4 separate regions of the Homo sapiens genome follow, and all the other regions are reported to be linked to region 3. The links are microRNA targets in miRTarBase. Many come from high-throughput screens and were not tested one by one. Region 3 holds a microRNA gene; each other region holds the end of a gene's coding sequence.

Region 1 (3,084 bases), not on the chromosome of region 3:
ACCACATCCGGCTAATTTTGTATTTTCAGTAGGGACAGAATTTCTCCATGTTGGTCAGGCTGGTCTCGAACTCCTGACCTCAAGTGATCTGCCTGCCTCAGCCTCCTGAAGTGTTGAGATTACAGGTGTGAGCCACCGTGCCCAGCCTAAGCTGGCATGTTTTAAGGCAGTTACATCTCTAACTTGATTTACCAGCTATGCTTGAGGGTCCAAGGAGCCAAAATTGCAGCCAAACTGATCTTAAAGGACCAGGGAATAGAATGGTCAAGCATGTTTCCAAGTTTAACCTAGGCCTGGCACATCCTTGCCAATTGCTCAGATGGCAAGTGAGGGGCAACTAAGTGAAGAGAATAGCAGGAAGACCCACTTGGGGTGGACACTGATGAAAAACACAAGCAGTATCAGACTCACTGTTTTCAGGATTAAAATCCCCAGATGCCCTGTTATTGGTCTATGTCACTACCAGTAGGACAAAAGGCAATGCTTCTGAAGACTAGAATATGCAAGGAAAAAATTAAGGTGCCTGCCTGCCTGGGGCCTAACGAGCCAAACAGTGCTAATTTCATCCATGCCAAACAAAATTGTTCATTCCTTGCTGATTTGGGTTTTAAGGAACCATGCTGATCATCAGAGAAACCAGGCAATTCTATTCTGAAGCCCAGGGGAAGAAATGGTGGGGATTTCTGAGTTACAGATGGTGCAGGGGTTAACACTATCTGCCACTATGAAGGGAAAAATCTATCTTGGTAAACTTTGGTCTTCCATAGGACATGGAACCAGAGTAGCAAGATCAGGGCCTGCGTGACCGATCCTGATTGAGCAGGACTTCCTCACATAAGGTACACAAGAGCTGGGCGCAGTTGCTCATGCCTGTAATCCCAGCACTTTGGGAGGCCCAGGCTTGTGGATCACTTGAGGTCAGGAGTTTGAGACTAGCCTGGCCTACATGGTGAAACTCTGTCTCCATCTCTACTAAAAATACAAGAATTAGCTGGGTGTGGTGGTACATGCATGTAATCCCAGCTGATCAAGGGGCTGAGGCAGAATCACTTGAACCCAGGAGGTGGAGGCTGCAATGAGCTGAGATCATGCCACTGCGCTCCAGCCTGGGCAACAGGGTGAGACTGTCTCAAAGAGAAAAACAAAACCCATAAGATGCACAGGTATCTGAGAAGGGTCTAAACACCCTAGAACTGCAAGCAAAATTTTGAGTGTATACATGTTTTCCTGGCGAAGGGGTCCTCATTCTCAAATCCTGAGCTTTTAGGAAAAAGTACTAAGCCAGTTTCAGGTTACGATACAAAAGCCACCAGATACACTTAGAGCCAGTCAAGTTTGAGAATTCTCAAAGCCATCACTGAAAAGTTGGAACACATACTCACAGCAGAGACAAGTGAACATTTATTTTTATGCCTTTCTTCCTATGTGTATTTCAAGTCTTTTTCAAAACAAGGCCCCAGGACTCTCCAGATTCAATTATGTCCTTGGGCTTGGTCGACTGCTGCAGGAGTCTCAGGGAGCCTTCTACAAATGCTAGAGTGACTCATTTACCAACATTAAACCCTAGGATACATGCAACAAAGCAGGACTCCTTCCTCCATGGAATGTGCCGATTTCAGATGACACAGCACCCAATGCAGAAAACACTGGAATTTTTCCTTGGAACTCGACTGTGATGAGAGGTGCTTGACATGAACATATGCTACTGTCTTTTCTTTTTTTTTGAGACAGAGTTTCGCTTGTTGCCCAGGCTGGAGTGCAATGGCGTGATCTCAGCTCACTGCAACTTCCACCTCCCAGGTTCAAGCGATTCTCCTGCCTCAGCCTCCTGAGTAGCTGGGATTACAGGCACGTGCCACCATGCCCGGCTAATTTTTGTATTTTTAGTAGAGATGGCATTTCTCCATGTTGGTCAGGCTGGTCTCGAACTCCCAACCTCAGGTGATCTGCCCACCTCAGCCTCCCTAAGTGTTGGGATTACAGGCATGAGCCACCACGACCGGCCAGCTACTGTCTTTTCTTTGACCCTTTCCAGTTTCTGAAGATAAAGCAGGAAATAATCTTCTCTGAAGATACTTGATAAAAATTTCCAAAACAAAACACATGCTTCCACTTCACTGATAAAAAATTTACCGCAGTTTGGCACCTAAGAGTATGACAACAGCAATAAAAAGTAATTTCAAAGAGTTAAGATTTCTTCAGCAAAATAGATGATTCACATCTTCAAGTCCTTTTTGAAATCAGTTATTAATATTATTCTTTCCTCATTTCCATCTGAATGACTGCAGCAATAGTTTTTTTTTTTTTTTTTCCGAGATGGAGTCTCGCTCTGTCGCCCAGCTGGAGTGCACTGGTGCAATCTTGGCTCACTGCAATCTCTGCCTCCTGGGTTCAAGCGATTTTCCTGCCTTAGCCTCTCGAGTAGCTGGGACTACAGGCACGCGCCACCACACCCAGCTCATTTTTGTATTTTTAGTAGAGACAGGGTTTCACCATGTTGGCCAGGATGGTCTCAATCTCCTGACCTCATGGTCTGCCCGCCTTGGCCTCCCAAAGTGCTGGGATTACAGGCGTGAGCCACCGCGCCCGGCCAGCAATACAGTTTTTAGTTACTCGACATCTTTAAGCCTATAACTCTTAGGCTATGCATAGCCCCATGTCCTAATCAGGCATTCACTGATCCCAGCAGGTCTCCATCTATTTGTACCAGCCTCCTCTATTCCTCCCAATCTCAAGGTTACTCTTAAATACTAGTAAATGCAAAAAGAACTTGTAAAGTGGCAAGGCATGGCCTATCAAAAGTCAGCCCAAGGGCAGTTTTCAGCCCTGCCTCACCTGGGTCTAGTTCAGCTGACGGATGAGCTGATTGATGCGTTCACCCCGATAGCCAGGTGTGCCCATCTCCTTGAGGAAGCCCACTCTATTTTTGGTAGCATGACGGGCCACTGAGAGGTGGAAAGGGCACAAGAACCATGAGATCTCCTGGAAATGCTTCCCTGGGAAGGCAATTTCATGAATGAGGTCTTCCAAGCAAATGACGCCAAACTTCCCTAAGAAACACAAAAGCACAGATTCCTTTATTTA
Region 2 (3,079 bases), not on the chromosome of region 3:
AAGTAACCAACCTGCATGCACCTAGCGGGCGAGGCACAGCTCCCACACCGTTGGCCTCTTGCTCTTGTTGTGGAAGGCACTATTCTAAAATGAGAGGTGCACAAATGGAGAGGCTGCCACTGAGGGCTGCTTGCAGAATGCCCCTGCCCATCAGCTCACTGGCTCTTCTTTCTCCCCAGGAAACTCTGGATTCAGGAGGGACCATCTGCCTTCATGAAAGGCGCTGGCTGCCGGGCACTGGTCATAGCACCTCTCTTTGGGATTGCTCAAGGGGTCTATTTTATTGGGATTGGAGAGCGCATCTTAAAGTGTTTTGACTAGACAGAGCTGGAGGTCAAGTCCCTGCGCTTGCCGCCCTCTCTCTAGCTGTTTCACTTAGCCTAGAGGGGGCAAGGGCAGGTGGGGCCACTCTGGCCTGCCTGGTCCTCTGCGTTGTAGTGCTACCTCAATCTCGGGAGAAACAGCCCTATATTCTAACAAGTTGAGCACAGCCTTCTTCCCCTTCGTGTCTACACTCGTTTTCCTTTGTGGGCACAGCTACCAGGGGCTTTTGGAAGCCCCTAACCACCTACTTTTCAACAAAAATGGTACTTTCGTTGTATTAATTGCAGGACCTTAACAGGTAGTCACAATAGAAGGGTTGTTTCTGTATTTTAACATTTCTATTTCACAGTCAAACTCGGCATTCTTCAGTCAGCTTGAGGATTTAGCATTGTTAATCTTGGACTCCATAACTTATGAGTCCTAGCACTGATTTTGAGGAAAAGGAGGATCAGAAGTTCAAGGGACCGTGAAAGCCCTCAGAGTCAGCACCTAGTTTGAGACCAAGCACCCTTTCGAATCCCTGGATGGCTGAGGGGGCTGAGGCCGGCTCTGACTGGGCAGCTCAGCCCCTCCCCCAGAGCCCAGGGTCTTGCACACCCCTCCCTGTAACCAAGGAACACTCTGAAATAAAGGTGAATGGCTAAAATCTCATCTGTTCATCAGTGGGTACAGCAGATAGGCTGCAGTGAATGCTATCACCATCTACTTTTCTACGTCCATTTCAAAACCAAACATTAAAAAGGGCATAGAAGCAGACCCCCGTCACTCTTCAAACTGTTACTTGTGGGGGTGGAGGAACACAGCCATAGGGAAATATCTGCTTGTTAGTGACACTGGGTTTTAAGCCTTGATTCTATCCCTTCATAAGTGAATCGTCTTGAGGAGCTGAGTTTGCTGTGAGAGCCCTCCTCACGCACCTCGATTCCTCCCCCAAAGGCTGCTACAGGAGAGATAATGTCACAGCAGCAGGGCCAAGTCCTAAGAAAATCAGCACCTGCTGCAGGAGCTGGTGTTTACAATAGTCCCATCTACTGTGAAACCTGGGCTAACAAGGAAGAGGATGGTGCTAACATGGTCAGCCCTGGGGGCCTCACTCTCTGTTATGAGAACTGCATTTGAGTATGGGCCCTGGAGACAGACCTCAGTTCAAGTCCCAGCTCCACCATGTACTAGCTGCAAGGCCCTGGGCAGCTCTTAGTCGTCACCTACGGAAAAATAAAACATGGGACAGGGAAGGAAGAACAGGGCCTCTGTGAAAGGATCTGGTTCCAGCACACAGTGACCTGCTCCAAAATAACTCGGTTTTTTGGGTCTGGCGCCGTGGCTTACGCCTGTAATCCCAGCACTTTGGGAGGCCGAGGCAGGCGGATCCGAGGTCAGGAGATCGAGACCATCCTGGCTAACACGGTGAAACCCCGTCTCTACCAAAAAATACAAAAAATTAGCCAGGCGTGGTGGCGGGCGCCTGTAGTCCCGGCTACTCCGGAAGCTGAGGCAGGAGAATGGCACGAACCCGGGAGGCGGAGCTTGCAGTGAGCCGAGATGGCACCACTGCACCCCAGCCTGGGCAACAGAGCGAGACTCCGTCTCAAAAAAAAAAGAAAAAGAAAAAACAAACAACTTGGTTTTTCTCATTCGGGCAACACTAATAAAACTATTTCCTCAATAAAGTTGTGCACGTCACGCTGAAGAGCCATGTGGGGTGTGTGGAAGATTGCAAGGGTGGAAAGAATGCTCCTGGTGATGGGCTGGGAACAACGGGCAACAGCCCAGGGGACCCCCAGAGGGTTAACGGGTCCAGGTGCTGACAGCTGTCACCATCAAGTGCCACGGGGATTGGGAAAATACTTCTTTTCTAGGTGCCTCAGTAAGAATTTGACTCTGTCAAAACCTAAATTTGTAGTGCCTTACACTAGAAATCACATTAAATCCGCATAACTCTTTTAATAAATAAAGCATATTCATGGCTTAGATTTTAAATCACATTTACAGATGAGGGAAAACTTCTAGGCCTAAACAGGTAACAGTAAAGCGACTACTGCTGGAAGGAGTGGTGTGCCACATGCGCCTTAAGCCTCAAGAGTGGGGACTGCAGGGCCAAACACCAAATACATCACCTTTAGGCCAGACGGAGAGTGGAGACCCAGGAAGCCCATGCAACCACCATCTGCCCCCTCCCCTAGTGCTGCAGAACCGGCTGGACACTGTCACACTTTCAGAAGAACTGGAGGTGGGTCCTGATCATATTACATGAAGCTTTCCACCATTGTGAACAATTAGGCAAGGCATGAGTGACAGAGGGGCATCGCTGATAAATACAGAGCAATACTGGGGCAGTGAAGAGGAAGCTACAGAGACATTCGTGTTTCTTCAAATATCAGAAGCTTCCACATCACAGCAGGAGAGCTGACGACGAGCTCCACCTCCTGAAGGCTTAGTCCAAAAACTTCCTGTTGGCATTTGCACCAAACAAGGCTCCCCGGACTTCTGGCATCATCTGTGGAGAGAAAGTGTAATAAATACGCAATGTCAGCTGAAGAAGTTGTAGAGCGCTGCACATCTTTTTTTTTTTTTTTTTTTTGAGACGGAGTCTCGCTCTGTCGCCCAGGCTGGAGTGCAGTGGCGCATCTCCGCTCATTGCAAGCTCACGCCATTCTCCTGCCTCAGCCTCCCAAGTAGATGGGACTACAGGTGCTTGCCACCATGCCTGGCTAATTTTTTTGTATTTTTAGTAGAGACGGGGTTTCACCATGTT
Region 3 (3,084 bases):
ATGTAGGTTCATCAGTTGTAACAAATGTACCACTCTATTATAAGACATTGACGGTAGGGGAGGCTGTGAATGTGTGGAGGTAGAGGGTATATGGGAAATCTCTGCATTTTCTGCTCCATTTTTGCTGTGAACCTAAAACTGTTCTAAAACATAAAGTCTATTTTTTGTAAAAGTTTTCTAAGGTCAACATAGTTAATACTGAAAAACAGCATTTTAAAAATCAGTTATAAAATAACTTGTAAGAGTTAAGGACATTCTTCCTAATTGTCCAATAACGTTGAAACACTTCAACCATGAATATATTTAAAATAAAAATGATAAATCGCTTTGGCGACACCCAGTAGAATAAGCTTGACTGGCTAAATAAAGTGACCATCTTTTCATCTTCATTTTCAAATGCCTCTGCATCATGACATTATTGGTAGGGATTGGAGCAAGAAAGAGAGAAGGAGGAAAAGAAACTAGTGTGATAAAAAAAGAAATGCTACAGAAATGGGGTTTATAGATGAAATAAAAGAAAAAAAAGGTCATAGGGAAGATGTGTTAACGAAAGAGAAAGAGTGAATTCCAAGAAAGTTGGCACTATTAATGAACATGCCGTCGACATTTTCCCAATTAATAAATGGTTCCACTAACCTCTTCTAGTGAAAGTATGTTTCTCTAAAAAAATAAGAGTCATGAGAAAAAAATAAACTAGTCATAGTAACTGAGAAAATACTATGCAATTTTTTTGTATAGAAATGGTGGTTTAATGAACAATGTTCCAAAACACTTTTCAAAAATTATATATATAATTAGATGTTCTGTAGTTGTCAGGCACTGAGGACACCTAAAAAAAAAAGGGAAGGAAAGGGAAGGAAAATGCACCATATTTATTCAGTGTCAGTGAATATGACACTTCAAAGATGTAATACTGTTATCTGAAATACTGTTATCTTCGCAGCCTATTTCAGGTAACAGTATTGCTTCTTTGAGGTGTCATACTGAAGACCAATCAAATACCAAAACAACGAGGTGAACAGTGAGCTATTCGGGTAGAGCTGAACATAGAATGGCTGGAATGCCTACACATGAATTCAGTGCTTTTGACTTTGTGTGTGCGTACATGGTAGCAAAAGTAGCAGAAAACTACAAGTTAGGGGTTCAAGTAAATCTGAAAAACATTTGGATAGTGTAACTTAATTCTTGTGGGGGTTACCAGCTTTTTGATAAAAGGTCACCAATAGTCATCATCCAGCCCAATTCCACAACCTATTTTTAATCCTGCCCATTGTCATTCTTCTGGAGAACTGGCACCTATAATTATCCTCACCTGTAGAAACCCTCTCATCTTGAGATTTTTGGCATTACCACTCTTTTCCTACTTTTGCCGAATTCTTGTTAATCCTCTTACTCCTTCAGATTTCCTATGATGTAAAATATGTAACTGTGGGTGTGCCTCAAGACTTGGGGGAAAGAACACTAAATATACAGAAGACATTTTCTAATCCTTTTCTGTCACTACACTCATTTCTTCACATAATTTCAGCTATCATTTTTATGGTAACTAATATAAAGCAACATCTGAAGGATGAGACCTCTCAATCAAGGAATCTAATCCAGAACTTTATTCCACAAGATATCTTTAAATTAAAATTTTACTGTATCTTGACAGTGTATTTAAAATAAAACTCTTTATTGTAATTTTGCTTCACTTTCCATCTTCCATTTTTACTTCTCTTTTCCTGGATATTTTTGTAAAGGTTTTATTTCTCCTTTTCCTCTCTTAAGCTTTGAATAATGACAATCCAATTTATCCTCAAACCCTTCCCTTAATGCTTATGTACAGTAACTTAAATGTGATCCTGCTAGATGATTTAATATTTGATTTTATATTGTCCTCCCATTGTTTAATGTATATACTATTCCCTTTTTAACTGACCTGCAAACTTTTCATAAATGTAGTATCTTTTGTATCATATATAACTCAAAACTATAAGCATTTGTAAAATTCTTAGTTATTGACTGAGGAGCTGAAAAAAAACCACTAATGATAAAAATCAATTTTCTTTTTCCTGTCATCTGTTGTTACAGAATTATATATGCAAAGCCAATGTATATATCTCAAATTTCTATTGAAATCACTGTGAATCTTAGATTTACTTGCCTTGTCCTCCAAGTGCAATTCTAAAAAGCGTAGATAAGCCACAGGTGCAAATGCATCAGCTGAATGTATGACTACTTCTGATGAATCCCTGAAATACAAAAATTTTACAATACATTTATATGCTACAAAAATTGTGACAAATCATTCCTCCTACTGACTAGAAGAGACTAAACATTCTTGTTTTATATTTATCTCCATTGGTATACAACATGTAGTGATTAATAAATATTTTTAATAACCCAGTATTTAATTGGGAAAAGGTTCAAGTATACTAAGCTTTTAAGAAAAAACAATGAGGCTTTCTATCTTCATAAGAACATAAGAGTTCAACTTTCAGGTTCACTCAAAGCTCTCTGAACAATTTTAAGACTTAAATTCCTGTTCAATTTCATTTTCACGTATTTGCTTGGTATAGGCTAAGCATTAAACATTAGTGCTTTATCTTCATTATTCTTTTCATTTTCAAGAGGTAATTCATTCAATGTTTCACACAAAATCTCAATTATCCTTCACAAAAGCAGTACTGGTGATGATTTTAAGCTCTAGATGAACTCTTCACACTGCAGTATCATTGCTATTAAAATTGATTGTCTGACATAGTAATGACCACATTCAGGTAAAATGGTATGAACTGCATGCTGGCACCATATGGATACATGTAAATTAACTCAACTTTTATCAAAGATACCCTGTAAAGCACATTTGAATAACTAAGATTATGTGTAAAGTTCTAATAATGAATTATTTTTTATTGTTTATTAAGAGAGTAATAATGTTTTGAATTTCAACTGAAAATTTAAAAATAGAAATTCCTCATATCACTTTAGTGCCTTGGGAAGTACTTCTATTGTTTATATTAATAGTTAGCATTTTGACCATTGTAGTACAGTAAAATAAATCCTGACATTGACATTTTGTCGCTAATGTAAAAATATTTT
Region 4 (3,072 bases), not on the chromosome of region 3:
ACTCACACGGTACCAGTTTCATATCAAAACAAAACACACAAGTGCTTTTTCAATATTAAAACGACTGTGATAAAAACATATTAATATTTTGAACCATGTTTACAATAGAGCAAAATTCATATTTTACTAAATAACAAATATTTAACAGCAAAAACTTTATACTAAATATCTATTTTGAATTATAACAAAAATAGTACTTATAATAGTTTATAAAGACAGACACAAAATTATAACATTTATGAAAAAAAAGGTTTGTGTATAAAATAATATTATAGCCATCTGGGCAGGGTCACGGTGGTGCCCAGAACACAAACGCCAGCGCCCAACATCGAAAGTGCTTCAATCTGCAAGCCCGTGGCAGGAAGAGTTTTGTGGGGTTTTGTCTTTTTAAGGTCAAGTTGCAATAGTTAGGGATGATAAGTAAGAAACATCACCCATCTAATGCTAGCTGTATGAAACACACACGCACACGCACAGACACGGGCATCTCACTAGAGAGCTGAAAGGAGGGACCAATTACAACACAGGGATCCTGTCAGCCAGCCAGAGCTTTCTTCAGCTCTCTTCTCACTGCCTTTGAGACCCAGCGGGGCAAATGATCCTTCTTTCCTCCCTCACAGGGACCCCCCTCAGCTTTTCCTTCTCTGCCCCCTACCAGGCTGGCCACCCCCAGGGAAGGCCCCTGAGACCTCCCAGCCCCATGCCCCCTGCCCCTCACCTGGACCAGACCCAGTGGGCTTGTCTGAAGTTCCACTTACTGCTCTCCTAGATACTCAGTCAAAAACAATTGGTTCAGGGCCAGCTGGATCAGTTTAAAGGAAAATGAACCTCCCAGACACTGGTTTTGTGTTGGGGGGAGGGGGTACAGGTCCGGGTGCACCATGTAGCTATGTTGCAAGCTTTGACAAGTCTTTACCCATTCTGGCCTGTTTTTCAGGATTAGGGATGAGCAATTTTGCCAATAATGTCTATTCCACACTGTTTTTTAGTAGTGGAAAAGTAGGAAATAAATGAAACATCTGAGACTCAGGGATTGGAGAGCAGTCTGTGTGGTATGGGCCCGTTCCTATAGTCTATCTTCAGGGTGGCTGTGAGTGGGGTCAGGGTCGGTCTGTGGGGCTGCCTACGGGATCTGGTCTGAGGGAGCCACTGAGGTGCTCACAGCAGCGATCGGGGACTGGCATGTCCTTCATTCTTCTGTGTTTTCGATTTTCTTGTAAAGGGGATTCATTGCTTTTACAACATCAAAAACCAATAAACACAGAAAGCAAGGAAAAATCTAGAGACTCACCAAACGCCCGGAAACCTTCCCCAGGAGGCATCCCAAATTGCCAACACTCAAAACGCCAGTGGCAGGAGCTACTCCTCTTTCACCCAGTCATCCCGACTGGCCAGTTTTCAACCCAATCCCCCTGACAAACCGCACGTAGCCGCCTCTTCAGCTTCAGCTGCGGCAGCCTTCCCGCAGCTGTCCGGAGACCACACAGGGCCCTGCAATCAGCTCCGAGGCAGAACTGCCGCTGCGCTCACCTCCCCCACGCTTTCGCCTCTTCCCCACCCCTGAGCTGGGCTAAGCAGACAGTGGCATAGAGGTGGAAGGGACTTCAAGGACACCTTTTTCAGGGCGGAGGGCAAAGGGGGAGAGTTAAGGAAGGGAAGACGGAGGCCCTTGCTCCCCGTCAGAAGAACCCGTATCCTTCCCCATACTCACGCCTGGAGTCAGGGCCAGTGCACTGGGGTGAACAGGGGCCAAACAGGAAATCGTGGCCGCCTCCAAATCTACCTGATCAGGGTTTTTGACAGGAGAGGGAGGAGGCAATGGGCCACATTCCATCTCCACCAGGGATAAGGCAGAGGCACCGGACTTCAGTCCAGGAGTGAGGCTCCGAGATTAAACCCAAATAATGCCCGGAGCCGGGGAAGGCTTTCAACCCTAGGCCCTGGGGGCTGGGTTTGACCAGAGACCCCTTCCTCTTCACTCACAGAAGTCTCGCCAGGACAGCTAGAACACAGGCTAGGGCATGAAGGGGAGGAGATGTTCACTCCAGACCCCAGCATCCCCAAGATTCTCTATCAGTGAATAAATATGGGGGCGGGCAGCACATGAGCCGCGGGCCTTAGGCGGCTGTGTGTAACAGGGCCTGGTTCAGCAGGGGATGGGAAGGTGGGGGTGTCAGTGCACCTGCCCAGGGCCACCAGGGAGGATGCTGGGGAGACAGGGCCTGGGGCTCCTTTGCCCCAAGGTCAGAGGACAGAACAAGTAGCAGCAATAGGTAATTTCAAATTGTCCAAACTGGTGAGGGAGGGTGGGAACCGTGGCATAGGGAAGGGCAATCTCCAGGTTGGACGCAGCCCCCGCCCCGCCAAGGTTGACTCCTGTTCTGCTACCCAGGATGCTGTTCCTGGGCAGACGCAGTGGGGGCGCAGGAGGAGGAGACGCTGAAGAGTGCGCCCAAGGGGGCACGGCTCTTCCCGTCCCCCAACCCCAGCTAAAAGGGTCCGAAAGGAACGGAGGGAAGGGAGCAGTTCAGAACATCACAAAAACACTGTAGCACGCGCTGACACCTAACACTGTCACGGGCATGCAGAGCCCCTGCCACGCCCTTCCCAGGGGCTGAGCTGATGGTAAATGGGGAGTGGCTGGAGGGAAGCTGGAGCCAGAAGGGGAGCCCAGCCCTAGGAATGGGGCCCACTGGCTTTGGGTAGGGTTTGCCAGGGAGGGGGAGCAAGGGAGGGCAAGTATGGGGGCCACTCGCCCTCCCCGTTCCGGCCCCCTCCCACACACAGGTTTCTACCTCCCACAACCACCACCCCGCTGCCTGGGCTGGGCTGAGGCGGGTGGGTCTTGGGTTAGACTGTGGCGCTCAGCATGGCCTCCGTCTCCGGCAGGATCTCGTTCTGGTTGGAGTCCAGGCCAAAGAACTTGACGCTGAGGCCATCCACGGGGTGCAGGACGGGGACCAAGGTGATGCGGGGGAAGGTCCGTGTGGCCAGCTCAAAGCGGCTGGTGCTAGCCAGCTCCACCGCCAGCACCTTCAGGAACAGCTTGGCCAGGTGCTTGCCCAGGCAGGT

The links. The annotated mature microRNA hsa-miR-3942-5p reads AAGCAAUACUGUUACCUGAAAU and lies in region 3 at 947-968, opposite strand. An mRNA with a match to its seed (bases 2 to 7 or 8) in the 3' UTR can be bound and repressed. Matches are read on the target gene's strand: a 7mer-m8 pairs with bases 2 to 8, a 7mer-A1 pairs with bases 2 to 7 and ends in A, and an 8mer does both.
Region 1: the mRNA of RPL7L1 is a reported target of hsa-miR-3942-5p. Seed matches in the 3' UTR shown: 7mer-m8 at 2,593-2,599, 7mer-m8 at 2,287-2,293 and 7mer-m8 at 2,163-2,169.
Region 2: the mRNA of ATP6V1E1 is a reported target of hsa-miR-3942-5p. Seed matches in the 3' UTR shown: 7mer-m8 at 2,646-2,652.
Region 4: the mRNA of CYP26B1 is a reported target of hsa-miR-3942-5p. Seed matches in the 3' UTR shown: 7mer-m8 at 2,266-2,272.

The regions. Positions count from the first base shown.
Region 1 is chr6:42,886,222-42,889,305 of GRCh38, reverse strand. RPL7L1 (ribosomal protein L7 like 1) reads right to left here. Exons shown (of 6, transcript NM_001366481.3): 6 at 1-3,050. The coding sequence ends at 2,842. Among named protein-coding and RNA genes, the nearest start is that of PEX39, 3.1 kb to the left of the region's middle.
Region 2 is chr22:17,589,916-17,592,994 of GRCh38, forward strand. It overlaps ATP6V1E1 (ATPase H+ transporting V1 subunit E1), which reads right to left. Exons shown (of 9, transcript NM_001696.4): 9 at 2,221-2,821. The coding sequence ends at 2,759. SLC25A18 (solute carrier family 25 member 18) reads left to right here. Exons shown (of 11, transcript NM_031481.3): 11 at 180-1,080. The coding sequence ends at 321. Among named protein-coding and RNA genes, the nearest start is that of SLC25A18, 28 kb to the left of the region's middle.
Region 3 is chr15:35,371,375-35,374,458 of GRCh38, forward strand. It overlaps MIR3942 (microRNA 3942), which reads right to left and starts at 990; the gene lies at 882-990. DPH6 (diphthamine biosynthesis 6) reads right to left here. Exons shown (of 9, transcript NM_080650.4): 8 at 2,147-2,234; 9 at 1-829. The coding sequence ends at 776.
Region 4 is chr2:72,129,377-72,132,448 of GRCh38, forward strand. It overlaps CYP26B1 (cytochrome P450 family 26 subfamily B member 1), which reads right to left. Exons shown (of 6, transcript NM_019885.4): 6 at 1-3,072. The coding sequence ends at 2,851. Among named protein-coding and RNA genes, the nearest start is that of CYP26B1, 17 kb to the right of the region's middle.